Linked DNA regions of Homo sapiens. The protein of the gene in region 2 interacts with the protein of the main gene of each other region in a pairwise test. Each region holds a gene or a part of one and is shown on either strand. Other genes may lie near its edges.

Region 1 (7,616 bases), on a different chromosome or scaffold from region 2:
CCCCAGGTCCCGGTGCAGAGGGAGTGGCCTGATGGTGACTGGGCGGAGGCCTCTGCCCCTCACAGGACGTCGTCAAAGTCCAGCAGCTTCGAGTGCTGGCGGCTCTTCCACAGGCGATACAACCGGAAGTCAAAGTACGTCTCGATCATCTGCTTCCCTGGGCGGAGCGGGGGCAGGAGGCTCAGGCCTGGCCGGCCCTGGGGATCCCACCCCACCGTGGCCCCGCAGTGGCTGCAGAGCTTCGGCCCAGCCTGGGTAACTCACCTTGGGCTGAGAGCTCCAGGGGTGACTCGAAGGTGACCCTATAAGGAGTCATGAGGGTCCTGAGGTTCTGGAACAGCTGGAGGAAGCGGGGTGCCATGAGTCCGAGGCAGAGAGATGGGGAAGGAGGAGCGGGGAGGAGATGGGGAGCAGGGCCCACCCTCTTTTTTCAGACCCCCCAAACCTGGCTGGGCTCAGGCATAAAGGATTTCTAGGGGAATGCCCGGGGGAAGGAAAAAAAATGCCAGGAAACATGGAAGGCTCTGCCCTGTCTGTCCACGTCGGGGGTTTCCAGAGGTCTGGGGTGGGGCTTGGGGGTCACTGTACCTTCTCTCCATTGGGGTTCCCCAGAATGTAGCAGCCCATGATGTGGATGACGTTCGGCTCTGGGTTCACTTTGCTCATCAGGCGGCTCAGCCGCTTCCAGAAGCTGGTGGAGAGGGGTGGGTCACCCAGTGGCAGGGGACAGGCACCCCACTCCACAGAGCGGACCGTGGAGGAGGGGCTGTGGGGGAGGGACATGCCAGGGCCTGGACTCTGCCTCCAGCCCTCCCCGCGCCCAGGGCACCCGGCTTCTCACTGAATCATGTCCTCTTCCTTCTCCACTTTGGCAAAGGTGGCCACCTTGTTCTTGAGGAGATAGAGGTGTCCAGGACCTCCCTGTAAGAAGCTGTGGTCAGGCATCTGCTCCTCCTTCCTCCCCCTCTCCGACACACATGCACCCACGCACATGCGTGGGAGGTAGTTTTGGTCTTCATCCCCCGGCCACGCTTCTTCCCCTTGATCTCCCCCACCACACGTCTTTCCCTTGATCTCCCCCACCACACGCCTCTTCCCTTTGATCTCCCCCCCACGCCTCTTCCCCTTGATCTCCCCCACCACATGCCTCTTCCCTTTGATCTCCCCCACCACACGCCTCTTCCCTTTGATCTCCCCCACCACACACCTCTTCCCTTTGATCTCCCCCACCACACGCCTCTTCCCCTTGATCTCCCCCACCACACGCCTCTTCCCTTTGATCTCCCCCACCACACGCCTCTTCCCTTTGATCTCCCCCACCACACGCCTCTTCCCTTTGATTTCCCCCACCACACGCCTCTTCCCCTTGATCTTCCCCCGCCTCTTCCTCTTGATCTCCCCCCCTCGCCTCTTCCTCTTAATTCCCCCCAATGCCTCTTCCCCTTGATCTCCCCCACCACACGCTCTTCTCCTTGATCTCCCCCCAATGCCTCTTCCCCTTGACCTGCCCGCCACGCCTCTTCCTTTTGATCTCCCCCCCACACCTCTTCCCCTTGATCTCCCCCCCACGCCTCTTCCCCTTGATCTCCCCCTCCACACGCCTCTTCCCCTTGATCTTCCCCTGCCCCTCGTCTCTTCCCCTTGATCTCCCCTGCCACGTCTCTTCCCCTTGATCTCCCCCACCACGTCTCTTCCCCTTGATCTCCCCTCCACGTCTCTTCCCCTTGATCTCCCCCTCCACACGCCTCTTCCCCTTGATCTTCCCCTGCCACACGTCTCTTCCCCTTGATCTCCCGCGCCACACGCCTCTTCCCCTTGTTCTGCCCTCCACGCCTCTTCCCCTTGGTCTTCCCCACCACACGCCTCTTCCCCTTGGTCTCCCCCGCCACGTCTCTTCCCCTTGGTCTTCCTTGGCCACACGCCTCTTCCCCTTGATCTCCCCACCATGCCTCTTCCCCTTGATCTCCCCCTCCACACGCCTCTTCCCCTTGATCTTCCCCTGCCCCTCGTCTCTTCCCCTTGATCTCCCCCGCCACGTCTCTTCCCCTTGATCTCCCCCGCCACGTCTCTTCCCCTTGATCTCCCGCGCCACACGCCTCTTCCCCTTGTTCTGCCCTCCACGCCTCTTCCCCTTGGTCTTCCCCACCACACGCCTCTTCCCCTTGGTCTCCCCCGCCACGTCTCTTCCCCTTGGTCTTCCTTGGCCACACGCCTCTTCCCCTTGATCTCCCCACCATGCCTCTTCCCCTTGATCTCCCCCTCCACACGCCTCTTCCCCTTGATCTTCCCCTGCCCCTCGTCTCTTCCCCTTGATCTCCCCCGCCACGTCTCTTCCCCTTGATCTCCCCCGCCACGTCTCTTCCCCTTGATCTCCCCCGCCACACGCCTCTTCCCCTTGGTCTTCCCCCGCCACGTCTCTTCTCCTTGATCTACCCCCCAAACACCTCTTCCCCTTGGTCTCCCCCAGCCACACGCCCCTTCCCCTTCATTTCCCCCCCGCCACACGCCTCTTCTCCTTGATCTTTCCCCCTCAATGTCTACACCTCTTCTCCTTGGTCTTCCCCAACCCCAGCCTCTTCCCCTTGGTCTCCCCCAGCCACACCTCTTCCCCTTGGTCTCCCCCAGCCACACGCCTCTTCCCCTTCGTTTCCCCCCGCCACACGCCTCTTCTCCTTGATCTTTCCCCCTCAACATCTACGCCTCTTCTCCTTGGTCTTCCCCAACCCCAGCCTCTTCCCCTTGGTCTCCCCCAGCCACACCTCTTCCCCTTGGTCTCCCCCTCAAACACCTCTTCCCCTTGGTCTTCCCACCCCAGCCTCTTCCCCTTGGTCTCCCCCAGCCACACCTCTTCCCCTTGGTCTCCACCCCCACGCCTCTTCCCCTTGGTCTCCCCCACAAACACCTCTTCCCCTTGGTCTCCCCACCCCAACCTCTTCCCCTTGGTCTCCCCCAACTTGACTTCTTCCCCTTGGTCTTCCCCTGCCCCACCACGATTCTTCTCCTGGTCAGGAGACGAGCACTGAGCCCCACCTGGCAGAAAATCAGCATTTTCCAGATCTTGGCTCCCTTGTGGTAGACGTTCAGCTTCCTCTCTATCTCCTCTGTGGGAGAGCGGGTGTGAGTGCTGCGGCCCCCACCCCAGCCCCAGGGGCACCCCCACCTGTGTCTGCCCCTCCCAGGCCTGGAACCAGCAGAGAGAAGGCCAATGAGGCACATACCAAGGATGTCCTCGAAGGTTGCGTGCTCATGGTCCTGGGGACAGACACAGGCCACAAGGCCACATCAAGGCTGCGTCAGAGCCAGCAGCGCCACAGCACCCTGGGGACCTGGGGTGCCGGCGCTGGCCCAGGGTGGGGCCGCAAGAGGGCATCTGTTGGGGGCAGGCCCGGGGCGGGACTCACGTAGAGGATGGGGATGATGGAGGGGTCATCCCGGCGGATGATAGTGGGGATGTACTCAGCCTTGGGCACCTTGGAGGAAATGAGCTGCGGAGACAAAGAGCTGCTCAGGGGCCCCAGGCCCATCCAAAAGCCAAGGGGCTGTGGGAGCCCCCATGAGGCTACCTTCTGGCTGCCAGGCAGCCCAAGGGTATAGCCCTGTGAGACACCCTCCCCCAGGCAGCTGGAGAAGGCTGCGTGGTCCCAGGCAGAGCTGGCTGGACTCGGGTTGGGGCGGAGTCCTGCTCGGGGTGTAGAGGAGCACTGCCCGGGCTGGGCCTCACCATGACCTTTGGTGGCACGAAGCCTTCGGTGTCGCAGGCCACAGCCTCCAGGCCCTTCTCAGTGTCCCAGTCCAGGTCCTCGAAGGCCTCGTCCAGCGTGCAGTGGGAGCTCTGCAGGTCACTGCCTGGGAAGCAAGAGGGTCACCAGGACAGCAGGCCCGGCAGCACCTCCTATCCTGGCCATGGCCCCAAGGCCCACAGGGCCCGAAAGCCCCATCCCGGAGGGTCCTCCAAGCAAGTGGGAGGACCATACAGAGGTCGCCGCCAGCCCGGCAGGACAGGCCTGTGGACACCACTGGGCAGCGGCCTGATGTGGGAAGGGAGACCCTGGTGCGAGGCCGGTGGAAGGCGCGTGCAGGCATCAGCTCCAGCCAAGTCCGCCGGGCGCCTGGGAGGGAGTGGGGGCGGGCACCGCAGCCCCCTGCCCCTGAGGGCCTCTTGCGAGTGGCGGTGGGCACGGCCCTACAGGCGCCCCCGGCCAGCACTGCCGCGGCCGTTGTTAGCCCCGCCTTTGCGATCGGAGATGCTGAGGGCGTCCCCATCTCACAAACAGGTAAACCAAGATTCAGGAGTGCAAAAGCGCAGCCCAGCGGCCCTGGCAGGGGACCCCCAGCAGGGGTCTGGGGTCTAGGGGAGGCTCTGGGGAAGGTGGGCGGGCCTGTGCGGGGCACCTACTGTCTCGGGAGTCGTGGGAAGTGTCGGCTTTCATGGGGGTGGGGTCGCTCCAGGACCGGCTGAAGCTCCGCTCGCGCCGCTCAGCGAACGCTGCAGAGAGCAAAACCCGCATTAGCGAGCGGGTGGGGCGGGGCCTCGGGAGTCTCAGACCCCAGGCGAGGGGACCACAGGGGCCCTGGGCAGAGGAGGAAGCTAATGTGGGTGGGGTCTAAGGCACATGAAGCAGACACGGACCAGAGGCTCGGTTGGTTCAGGGGCAGGATCTGAGAACACTGGGGCAGGGCCAGAGGCGGAGTCTGGGAAGGGAGGAGCCTGGGCCGGGCTGGGGGCGTGGCTGGGAGGGGAGGAGCCTGGGCCGGGCTGGGGGCGTGGCTGGGAGGGGAGGAGCCTGGGCCGGGCTGGGGGCGTGGCTGGGAGGGGAGGAGCCTGGGCCGGGCTGGGGGCGTGGCTGGGAGGGGAGGAGCCTGGGCCGGGCTGGGGGCGTGGCTGGGAGGGGAGGAGCCTGGGCCGGGCTGGGGAAGTGGCTGGAAGGGGAGGAGCCTGAGGCAGGGCCCGATTGGGGTTGGGGCGGGGGTCGTTCTTATCGCAGCTAGCAGCAAGCAAAGCCCCAACCAGCCAAGCGCAACGCCGCCCCCCCACCCCCGCCGCACGGGGTCTTACTCTGGGCCTTCACCCTCCGGCTGCCGACCATGCGCAGGTGTTTGCGGAAGTTCCTGGGGGAGGAAGCCAGGGGCTGAAGAGGGCCGTGAGAGGGTGACGGCAGCCCCTGCCCACCTAGCCCCCGTCGGGTCATGGCTCTACTCTCACCCCTTCGGTGTGGGAAGCCAGTGCTCTCCCTGGCTCCTGGCACCACCTCCCACCCAAAGGCAAATCCCACCCAGTGCTCTTCCCGCGACAGCCTTCCAGGGCTCCCCTTCAACTCCAGAACAAAGGTGCAGTGCCTGGCGCTCTGGATCAAGTCTCCTCCCGAGCTGCATTCCCAGGCTCTGACCTTCCGTCCTCGCCCGGGACTTACGCCCTGAGCCTCCACGCCCATGTGGCAGAGGATCCAGCCTGCCTGCGCTGCAGCAGAGCGGGGCTCCTGTCTGCACCACCCCATGGCGGGCTGGGGGCCTGCAGGAGCCCCCTCTCCTGCTCTGTGTCCTTGAGCCACCTCAGGGGCAGGTCCTCTCCTCCACCAAACTTTGGACCCTGCCAAGGCCCAACATCCAAAACGGGCAAAAAAGCTTCCCAGACACATCTGTGTGATTGGAGTGGGGGAGGGGGGCCTTGCTGCTGGCCCCAGCCCAGACAGAGACACGTGCCCTCGGAGTGCAGGACTGAGGGTGAGATGCTTTCCTGCAGCCCGGGCCACATGGCCTCTCCTGCCTGCCACGTCCCCAGAGCAGGGCCAGGCCAGTGGTCGCCACCACCCTTCCCCCATCAGGTCTGCCAGGGCCGAGGGGGCCCAGGCCAGGCCAGCACAGACCAGAGATGGACCCTGGTGGCGAGTGGCTGGCAGGCCCTACCTCTGGATTACAGACGCGGAATCATTCTCCCGTTTCCGGCGCTTCCTCTCCGCGTAGCCCCTGAACACCCTGGGAAACCACCGCGAGTCAGCACTGCCCTTGGCCGGAGGCAGGAGGGACACAGACGTCGGGACAGTGGTGCGAGCAGAGGGCCCAGCAGGGCGTCTGGGGCACGGGGCCCGGCAGAGGAGTCCCAGCCTGCCTCACCTGTCGAGGCCCAGCTCCCAGCAGGCCCTGCTGCGACCTCGGTGCCCGCTGGGAGCCAGGCCCGCAGAGAGCGGCACTCCCTCAAGACCCAGGTCCCTGGCCTGCCCAAACCTATTTGGGGTGGGAGGGTCTCCCCAGGGACAACAGCTGTGCCCTTAGGCACCAAGTCATACAGGTACTTACGAGATGCTGAAGCCAGGGCCAGAAGGGATGGCGTGAGAGAGAAGACACAGTGAGCTCAACCCCGGGCCTCCCCTCAGCCCCCACCCGGTCCCTACAGTTCCCTTCTTGTCACTGACCCAATAGGTCCCTCACAGGTAACCCAGCCACCAGCAGGATGCTGGCTACACTGCTGGCCAGCCCTGAATGGGCAACGGAAGCTGATGTCACTGCAGCCCATGCCACAAGGACTGGTTGCTGAGACCAGGCAGCCTGAGGCTGGGTGTGGGGTGGACTCCCCCGGGCAGGACACTTCTTTGGTGTGGGGACCAATGCAGCAAAGGGAACTTCCCTGGAAGGAATCCCAGAACAGAAAAGCCAAATGTATGTCAAGACAGAGAGGAGCAGGTCCCTGCGGGGACCCTGAAACTGTGATGACCTATGGCACGTATGAAACAGAAGTAGGCTTCTATTTGGGGTTTGAGGGAGGGCAGACACAGGCTGAGGAGAGTGGATAGGAGCAGGAGAACCTGCCACACCCCACACCCCACTGAGAGCTCATCAGCTGCAGCCCTGGGCCAGGTCCCCTGACTGTGTGTGTGTGGGGGGGGGGGCTGGGCACCAGCCATGGGAGGGGAAGAGCAGTCAGCCCTGGCCTCCCTGGCAGGCCTGGCACAGCATAGGCACGTGGGTCTGTTCAGAAGCAGCCCCCCTGGTAGGCCCAGAGACTGGGAAAAAGTGCTGTTTCCTGAGCAGCAGAAAGAGACCACCCAACCCTGACCCCAAGTCGTGGGCACAAGACTCACGCTTGCATAGTTGTGGTTGCTGTCTGGAAGCTGAAAAGATTTTCCTTGGGGAACCAGGTACGAATAGGGATGTCGTCTAAGAGAGACAAAAAGGAGCGGTGGCTGGGTGAAGTAGGGGTTCCTGAAGCCTCTCCCTCCCTGTTGGGAAGCAGATGCTTCTGGGTCCAGGGGTCAGCAGAAGCTGGCAGCCAGGGCGGGTGGGGGGAGGGTGGCATCCCCACACGGGCACAGAGGGCAGTGCTCGAATGTCTGCTGCTCACTCACCAAGACCACGCTCTTGGTAACTTGACGCTTTGATTTTTTTGGCTTAACTTTCCCTTTGGCCACCCAAAGTTTGAGAAACATTCCTTTGAAAGCACAGTCTGTCTCCAGGAGGCCCAGGAAAACAATGCGTCTGTTTCCCTTGGGCAGAAGAGGCTCTGAGGCCTTCTCTGCAGCCCCCATGCTCTAGCTGGAGGCCCTCACCGAGGCTAGAGACCACCTTGCTGAGGGCTGTCCCCTTCCGAGGGCCCCCACAGCCTTTCCCTGATGCCCAAGTGT
Region 2 (8,330 bases):
ATGAGGGAGATCTACTTTACAGGTGGGGAAACAGGCTCAGAGACAGGCAGTCACTTACTTGAGTGTCCACAGCTGGTTAACAGAGGGGTTGGGGTCCACACGTTGACTCCAGAGCTCAACCCCTTAACTAACCACCGCCCAGTTTTTCCCAAACGTTGAGCTATGCAAAATGACTTTGGCTCAATGGTTCCCATGCTTTAGCATGCATCAGAATCACACGATAGGCTTGCTGACCTTAGTAAATACAGACTGCCAGCCCCACCTCCAGAGTTTCTGATTCACTAGGCCTGGGGTGGGGCCCGAGAATCTGTACACAAGGTCTTGCTCTGTCACCCAGGCTGGAGTGCAGTGGCATGATCACAGCCCACTGCAGCTTCCACCTCCTGGGCTCAAATGATCCTCCTGCCTCAGCCTCCCGAGTAGCTGGGACTAAAGGCGTGTGCCACCACACCTGGCTAATTTTTTAAAAGTTTTAATAGAGACAAGGTCTTGCTGTGTTGTTCAAGCTGGAGAATCTATATTTTCAACAGCTTCCCAGGTGGTGCCAATGCTGCTGCTCTGGGACCACACTTGGAGAACCACTGCTTGAGATGTCGTGTGAGATCGTGTGCAGGCTTTTTGACTACTGGACTTCCTGCAGTGTCTTAAGTGGAGTTAATTTTTGTCTCTACCATAAAACTCTAATCTTAAAGCCATTACTACTTGGACTTTCAGGTAGGAGTCTATCTGTGCAAAATACTACTTAGAAAACCGATTGAAATAACAGTTCAGTTTGTCAGTTTCAAATTAGACTATATTATATATATATATGTATATATAAATTGTGGTAAAAAACACATAACATTGAATTTACGCTCTTAATCATTTTTAAGCATACAGTTCAGTAGTGCTAAGTAGATTCACAATTTTGTGCAGCACATCTCTATGGAAGATATATTTTAACCCCTAAGATTCCTACAAAAACACTTAGCACTTTGCTTTAATTACAAGACCAAACTGTAAGTTACTTATTCAGCCTTTGATTTATGAATATGAAACACTGTTTTCCTGAAGCCTTTACTAGATTCTAAACCATGCATGGTGATGATATATGTAAACAGAGTATGGTGGAAAACCTTAGTAATGGAAACCTTATGGGAATATAATCAGGTACATGTTAAGTAGACTTTCAGAACTTACCATTAGTCTTCCTACCTCGTTCCAGATTATGTCTTACGTACTTTTTGTAGGAAAGACATAAAATATAGAAAAAGTTACCCGTGTTACCTTTTGAAACAACTTGTTTGAGTACATGGCCTAGGCTTTCCTGTTAGATGATTATTTTTCTTCCTTTTAGAAAAAATAAAGGGTCTTTTAAAATTTTAAATTTTTTCACTAACTTGTTTTGCTGTTTAATTAAAAAGTCCCTTTTTCTGCTAGTGACTTTAAGTGTTTTTACAAGTTCTTCTATATTTCAACTATGAGAAAATGAGAAAATATCAGATTCTGGGGTCATTGAATTCAGCTTTTTTCTTTTTTAGTATTAAAAACAGAAGTCTTTCCAATTGTCATATTGGCAGAAGGGACATTTCTGGTTAAAATCTGGAGAGCTGGTTAAAATATTTGAAGAAATGTTCTTTCCTGAAGTTAGAGCTAAATAGTGACTGAGTCATACAAAACAATTCCATAGTCACTTCTGTTGTGAAGATGGTTTTTAATTGCAAAATGACAATGACTCTCTCCTTTGAGTCCTCTGCTCGACTAGGCCTGACCTTGGGCTTCCCTCTCTGTCCTTGTATCTGACTACCCTTAATATTTGATCACCTGGCCTGCCTTCAGCTAGAATCCTATCAAGGCAATTTAGCCAGAAGCTCCTTATCCTGGATATTTCCTTGGTAATTTTCCATCCACTGGCCCCCCCCATCCTGCTCTATGGTCATAAACCCCCACTTATCCTTTCTGGAGTTGAGCCCAATCTCTCTCCCCATGGCAAGAACACGTTTCAGTGGTCCCTGTATGGGTCGCCATGGCCCTCCTGGAGTAAGTTGCCTTACCATCCTTGGCAAGTGTCCTGACTCAGCTTTTTCTTTAGCAAAAGGAAAGACAGTACTGTATATTGGAGTGAGGACGATCAGCTCTTCTCTGTACTCTGTTGCCTTGAATGCATTTTGATTTTGACAACTCTGGGGTGATTTTGATGTGAAACTTTATGGCCCAGGAAATTTAGTCCTTTCTTGAAAGTTGTTTAGAAATGCACGGTTGCCTCATTAACACAAATTTAAGTGATGAACACAAATGTAAATGCTTTTGAAATATAAATGAGTGCTGACAAGGCAATTTGTCAGTGGGTTTTCCTAACAGACTGCTAAGTAAGTGTTGGTCTTGTTGAGGGATTTTACATACACAAATGAAGCCTGTCCAAGGCCAGCTAACACTATTTTGCAGTCCTCTTTGTTTTCCTAAAGCCTGGCACAGAAGTACTGAATCCATGCTGAAGGCCTTATTGGGTTTGCTTGGTGACTTGTGGGTCTTCCAGGCATAACTTGGCATTGCTTCCATTTATTATGGCTAGTCCTGCAGAGTCCTGTGCTGAGGCTGCAGGAGGGATAGAAGGCTTGGCCCTTGTTTTCTGAGAGCTTGCCTTCTGAAATGTGGCCTGACTTAAGGGGAAGAAACCCCACCTGCATGTGTCCTCCCTCAAGCGACGGTCCCTATAAGGCTCTACCGGAGTCCTCTCCCCTCCCTCCCTCCCCTCCCACCATCAGTCCCATTAAGTGGGCTCTGCGGATGGCCACTTACTTTGAGTAAACTGGGGAATTCAGCCTGAATCAATAGCTTCAGTTCATCCTTTGACAACTGGTCTGGATCACCTTCTTTGGCTGCATATTTTTCAAAAATCCTCTTCAGTTCCTCAGGAGACTTTTTAGTACTCATTCTGGTGTCTTATAAATTGGGAAGAAAATAAACTTACCAAAAAGCTGAAGTACAGTTTTGTGCTGAGGGTTGTCTGCAGGATTTTAGTGCCATTGGGCCATTTCCTTGGCATAAATGGGGAAGAATAAGGAAAAGAGAATGTCGGGGTCGGAATGGCACCAGTAACTACTAACATGTTTAAAAAATAAGCATCTTAGGCCAGGCACGGTAGCTCATGCCTGTAATCCCAGCACTTTGGGAGGCCAAGGAGGGTGGATCACTTGAAGTCAGGAGTTCGAGACCATGGAAGCCTGGCCAACATGGTGAGACCCTGTCTCTATACAAAAATTAGCCAGGCGTGGTGGTGCGTGCCTATAGTCCCATCTACTTGGAAGACCGAGGCAGGAGAATCGCTTGAACCCGGGAGGCGGAGGTTGCAGTGAGTGCGATGCCACTGCACTCCAGCCTGGGTGACAGAGCGAGCCTCCGCTGCAAAAAAAAAAAAAAAAAAAAAAAGACATCTTAGATAGTATGTTAAATGTCTGTTCTTAGAGTACATCTGTTAGGAGATGGTCCCTGGAGCCAAACATTTTTATTAGTAATTAATGACATTCTACACTTTTTATGTACCTGATCTGCACTCTGCAGGCTGTGGTCTTGAAGAATACTTGACCACAGCTTCTAGCTTCTAAGTTACAGGGAATATCTCCAGATGGCATAAACTCACCTTCTCTCCAGACCATTATCTTTCACACCATTCTAAAAGGAAGCAGAGTATTAATGCAAACAGAAGGAGCTCTAGGTAGTACCAAAATCACACTAACCTGGTTGCCCAATAGTGAAACAGCTAGAAGAATCAAAGAGGAGTTTGAAGAGCTGAGCAGAATCATGACACTTTTATAGTCTTTACGGGCACGCCACCCTGATTATGAAAATTTCCTTTTGTTGGCCATTTAAGGGTAATTATTAATGGTTTTTGAAACTCAGGCTTAAGACTGCATGAACCCCATAATTAAGGGCAAGATCCAGTAAAGGTCCATCTCGACAGTTGCTTCATGGTTCAGAGTCGTAAGCTTGGATTTTTTTCCCCCTGAGATTATATTTTCCCTCCAATGTAGAATTATATTTGCTCACAGTTCACATTTCATAAAGCTTAGATATAGAGGATTCTTTTCAATTTAGTTGCATATTTAGGCTTTAAAAAATAACTTTCTTCATATCCAGAAAAAATAAATGCTGCCCTGTGCGGTAGCTCATGCCTGTAATCCCAGCACTTTGGGAGGCCGAGGCAGGAGGATTGCTTGAGGTGAGGAGTTTGATACCAGCCTGGTCAACACAGCAAGACATTTCTACTGAAAAATTTAAAAAATCAGCCAGGTGTGATGGTACATGCCTGTAGTCCCAGCTACTGTAGAGGCTGAGGTGGGAGGATTCCTTAAGCCTGGGAGGTTGAGGCAACAGTGAGCCATGATTGTGCCACTGCACTCCAGCCTGGGTGACAGAGTGAGATCCTGTCTGTAAAAAAGAAAAAATGCTGTCATAGAAGGACAATATTACATAGTTTAAAAAATTACGGTATGGCCATTGAAGTCCTTCTGATGTCTTTACATATTAGCAGCTTAAATATTTGAATACATGAATGAATGAATGGAAGTATTGCTTCAGAAGCAGGTTTAAGAAGTGGAAAGAAGATACTCAGTAATTTGTGGTTTTATTTGGCAAATCAATATTGAGTAACATGGTCATTTTTTCAGCTCTTTCATTATTTGTTGGTCCTGTGTCTGCTTTTTATTTCTCATTATCCTTTTCCTTACCAAATATATTTCGTGATCATTCGAAAAACTTGTGAGAACACTCGACTTACTCTTGTTCAGTTGGAAATACTTCAAACTTTTTGTAACTGCCATGATTTAAAATTGCCAAGGAGATTGATTTCTACTGGAAAGAGTTCCATGAAATAAGTAGGACATTTCCAAGGGACATTGATCTAATGCTGATTGTAACTCACAGGAAGGGGTTCCAGGTGGATTTTAAGAGCACTTTACAGCTTTGAAACACTTGTACACTTCCACACTTATAGAATTTTCCCTGACTCTGCCTTATATCACCTACAAACTGAGGACTGGACTATTGGGACTGTATTTCTCCCTGATGTTTCTCAGCTCTAAAATTCTAGGGCCTTATTTACATTGGAGAACAAATGGGAAATCTAATAGAATTCCTTAAAAGCTTCCCGCCAGTCTTGAGCATTTATCATTCCATGTGTCTTTGCTGTCTTGTATATATTCTTCTTGTTTTTATTATGGATTCTTTGACTTTGCTATGCACCAATATAGAATATGTATTAACTCACTGGTTGGAGTAAAGACAGGCATTTTATTTTTAGTTATAAGATTTTACACAAAAATATTCTGATTTTGGCAATGCATTTTAATCAAGATTTTAGAAAATTGCCAGTGTTTTTACACATATGTTCTGTTTTCCTGGGAGGAAGTAGGCGTTTGTGCTTAATCATAACAAGAACTATCTTTTTTTAAACATCTTTTAAAAAATATTTCAGATCTACAGAAAAGTGGCAAGAATAGTGCAATGAACACCAGTCTGCCTTTCGACTAGATTCACTAATTGCGAACATCTCCACATTTGCTTTCTCTTTCTCTGGACAGATACTTTCCTCCACCCCTGAGTCATTTGAGAATCAATTACAAACATCCAGATGCTTCCCCCCTGAGCACCTCAGCATCTGTCTCCTAAGGACAAAGACATTCTCCTATGTAACCACAATGCCATTATCATAGCCCACGTCAAATCTCTCCAATTGTTGAATAGCATCTTAAATCATCTTTTCTCTCAAATTACCACTAGTGAGCTAAAATCAAATGGGGTGTTTATTATGTTTTGCATCTGGTTTTTTTGTTTATTTTTTTGAAGCCACTTCACTGTGTCACTCAGGTTGGAGTGCAGTGGCGTGAACACAGCTCACTGCAGCCTCAACCTCCATGGGCTCAGGTGATCCTCCTACCTCAGCCTCCCGAGTAGCTGGGACTACAGGCATGTGCCACCATGCCCGGATACATATATATATATTTTGTGTATTTCTTGTAGAAAAATACAACATGGGTTTTGCCATGTTGCCCAGGATGGTCTCCAACTCCTGGGCTCAAATGATCTGCCCGCCTCAGTCTCCCAAACTGCTGGGATTACAGGCGTGAGCCACTGCACCTGGCCTATTTTTTGCATCTGAAGAAATGATTTTAATAACTATATGTCATCTTAGTAACGATATAGGATGAAAGATAACATGTTCTATATAATACACCCATATATTACATATGACGTGTGTATGTATATATAAAAATTATCTCTAAGAAAAACTTTTGGAGCAGTATTGGTTAATAGTCTTCTAGGCTACAAATCTCTTCTTTCAAGGGACAACTTCTGATTAGAATCAGCCCAATGCGGCCGGGCACGGTGGTTCACGCCTATAATCCCAGCACTTTGGGAGGCCGAGGTGGGCGGATCACCTGAGGTCAGGAGTTCGAGACCAGCCTGACCAACATGGAGAAACCTCATCTCTACTAAAAATACAAAAATTAGCCAGGCGTGGTGGTGCATGTTTGTAATTCCAGCTACTCGGGAAACTGAGGCAGGAGAATTGCTTGAACCCGGGAGGTGGAAGTTGCGTTGAGCTGAGATCCTGCCATTACACTCCAGCCTGGGCAATAAGAGCGAAACTTTGTCTCAAAAAAAAAAAAAAAAAAAAAAAAAAAAAGAATGGGCCCAATGCTGCCTATTGTCAGAATTTATACTTGTAGCGAATGCTAGCAAAACTTGAACTTGAAAAACAGCCTGTGCGGCTTCTTAAGTTTTTACTTGCTCACTTCTACCAGTCACATCTCTTGTCTCTTATTTTTCTCTTTACCCATAGACTTAAAAGCATGAGGGTAAACTTGCACTTGGAAGCATGAAAAATCCACTAATAGATACTCTTGTGAAACATTAACTAAAAATATATGGAGACAAGTGATAATTACAGGGTGTGTTCACAAGAGTGCGTTTTGAAACCAGAGAAGGGGGGAAACGACAGGCACAAGGGTGGTAATGGGAAAATGGAGAGGCAAAGGTTATTTATCACCTCACTGTTCAATTGTTTGATCTTTGGACAGGCTTAATTTTTCCTAGGAAAGCCAAGAGTAACATATTTTAAGAGCTCTGGGCACCACAGGCTTCTGTGGGTTATTCTGCTTGAAGGTGACAGCATGCAATGTCTTGAAAAGCACCTTCAGGAAGAGGGTACAGTGTTAGTACCTGGTCCCTGCAAAACAAAATGGGTGTGAAATGCTATCCATGGGTTCTTGTTATCTTTGATCCTGAAGTTTAAAAGAGACCTTGAATACTCAAATGCTGCTTTCCCAGAAAGTATAGCTTGCTTGTCACCTGACCTGGTGTCTACCTTCCCTGGACCTTCAGACAAAGTTCACTTCCAACCTTTGCCTGGGCTGTGAGGCTCACTGTCTTTTGGGTCAGCCTGTGCTCACCTTCAGCAGTTGAGTTCCCAGAGGTCTCCTGACCATAGCCTGTGCTTCTTGAGTGCGTATCTTTACTATGGGCAGTGTGCTGACCTAGGCACCCAACTCCCACGGCCTCCTTAAATCCTTGCTGCAACTTTATGAAGTGGATGCTGTTGGTCCCCCCAGTCTGTAGAGACATCCAAGGACCTGCTCAGGGTCACACTGCTGGTCAGCAGTAGAGCTGGGATTCAAGTTCAGGCCCAGCCTGCACCCTCAACCACCGTGCCACATGCCCCTCCCAGGAGAAGGGCTTCTCTGAGGACAACCATTGTATGTTAACATTAGGACCACAGGTAGTATCACACTTAAGTGTTAGGTTTACATCTGGAGGTATAAGAAGGTTCTTTTTCTGAGGTGTAAGAAAGTTCTTTTCCTGATGAAAATGATATAGGCCTTTGTCTGTTTTGCACTGCTATAACAGAGTACCTGAGACTGGCTAATTTATAAAGAAGAGAAATTTATTTCCTCACAGTTCTGGAGGGTGGCTGGGAAGTCCCAGATCAAGGTGCTGGCATCTGGTGAGGGCCTTCTTGCTGTGTCATCATGTGGTAGAAGGCATCACATGGGTGAGAGAGAGGGAAGGGGACTGAACTCATCCTTTTACCAGGAACCCATTCCCATGATAACTAACCCATTCCAATGATAATGGCATTAATCCATTCATGGGGGCAGAGCCCTTATAACTTAATTGCTTCTTAAAGATTCCACCTCTCAACACTGTTGCACTGAGGATTAAGCTTGCAACACATCAACTTTGGGGAATGCATTCAAACCATAGCAGCTTTCTTTTACTGGTGGGGAAAAAAACAAGTTTAAAAGACTGGAAAAATACATACGTACTTATGGGACTGCTCATTGATTTCCTCA

Evidence for each region.
Region 1: the proteins of S100G (region 2) and NSMF interact in binary tests that used the Homo sapiens proteins (3 or more experiments, as listed by UniProt).

Annotation. Positions count from the first base shown.
Region 1 is NC_000009.12:137,449,335-137,456,950, forward strand, and holds part of NSMF (NMDA receptor synaptonuclear signaling and neuronal migration factor), read right to left. Parts: intron 7,153-7,616; coding exon 7,077-7,152; intron 6,301-7,076; coding exon 6,295-6,300; intron 5,974-6,294; coding exon 5,905-5,973; intron 5,896-5,904; exon of another isoform or gene 5,753-5,895; coding exon of another isoform or gene 5,412-5,752; intron 5,110-5,411; coding exon 5,057-5,109; intron 4,487-5,056; coding exon 4,397-4,486; intron 3,847-4,396; coding exon 3,722-3,846; intron 3,486-3,721; coding exon 3,402-3,485; intron 3,253-3,401; coding exon 3,219-3,252; intron 3,102-3,218; coding exon 3,031-3,101; intron 922-3,030; coding exon 842-921; intron 753-841; exon of another isoform or gene 692-752; coding exon 589-691; intron 341-588; coding exon 265-340; intron 158-264; coding exon 60-157; 3' UTR 1-59. UniProt on the Homo sapiens protein: Couples NMDA-sensitive glutamate receptor signaling to the nucleus and triggers long-lasting changes in the cytoarchitecture of dendrites and spine synapse processes. Part of the cAMP response element-binding protein (CREB) shut-off signaling pathway.
Region 2 is NC_000023.11:16,645,590-16,653,919, reverse strand, and holds the start of S100G (protein S100-G), read right to left. Parts: upstream 3,763-8,330; 5' UTR 3,717-3,762; intron 3,018-3,716; exon of another isoform or gene 2,922-3,017; 5' UTR 2,914-2,921; coding exon 2,779-2,913; intron 715-2,778; coding exon of another isoform or gene 531-714; intron 1-530.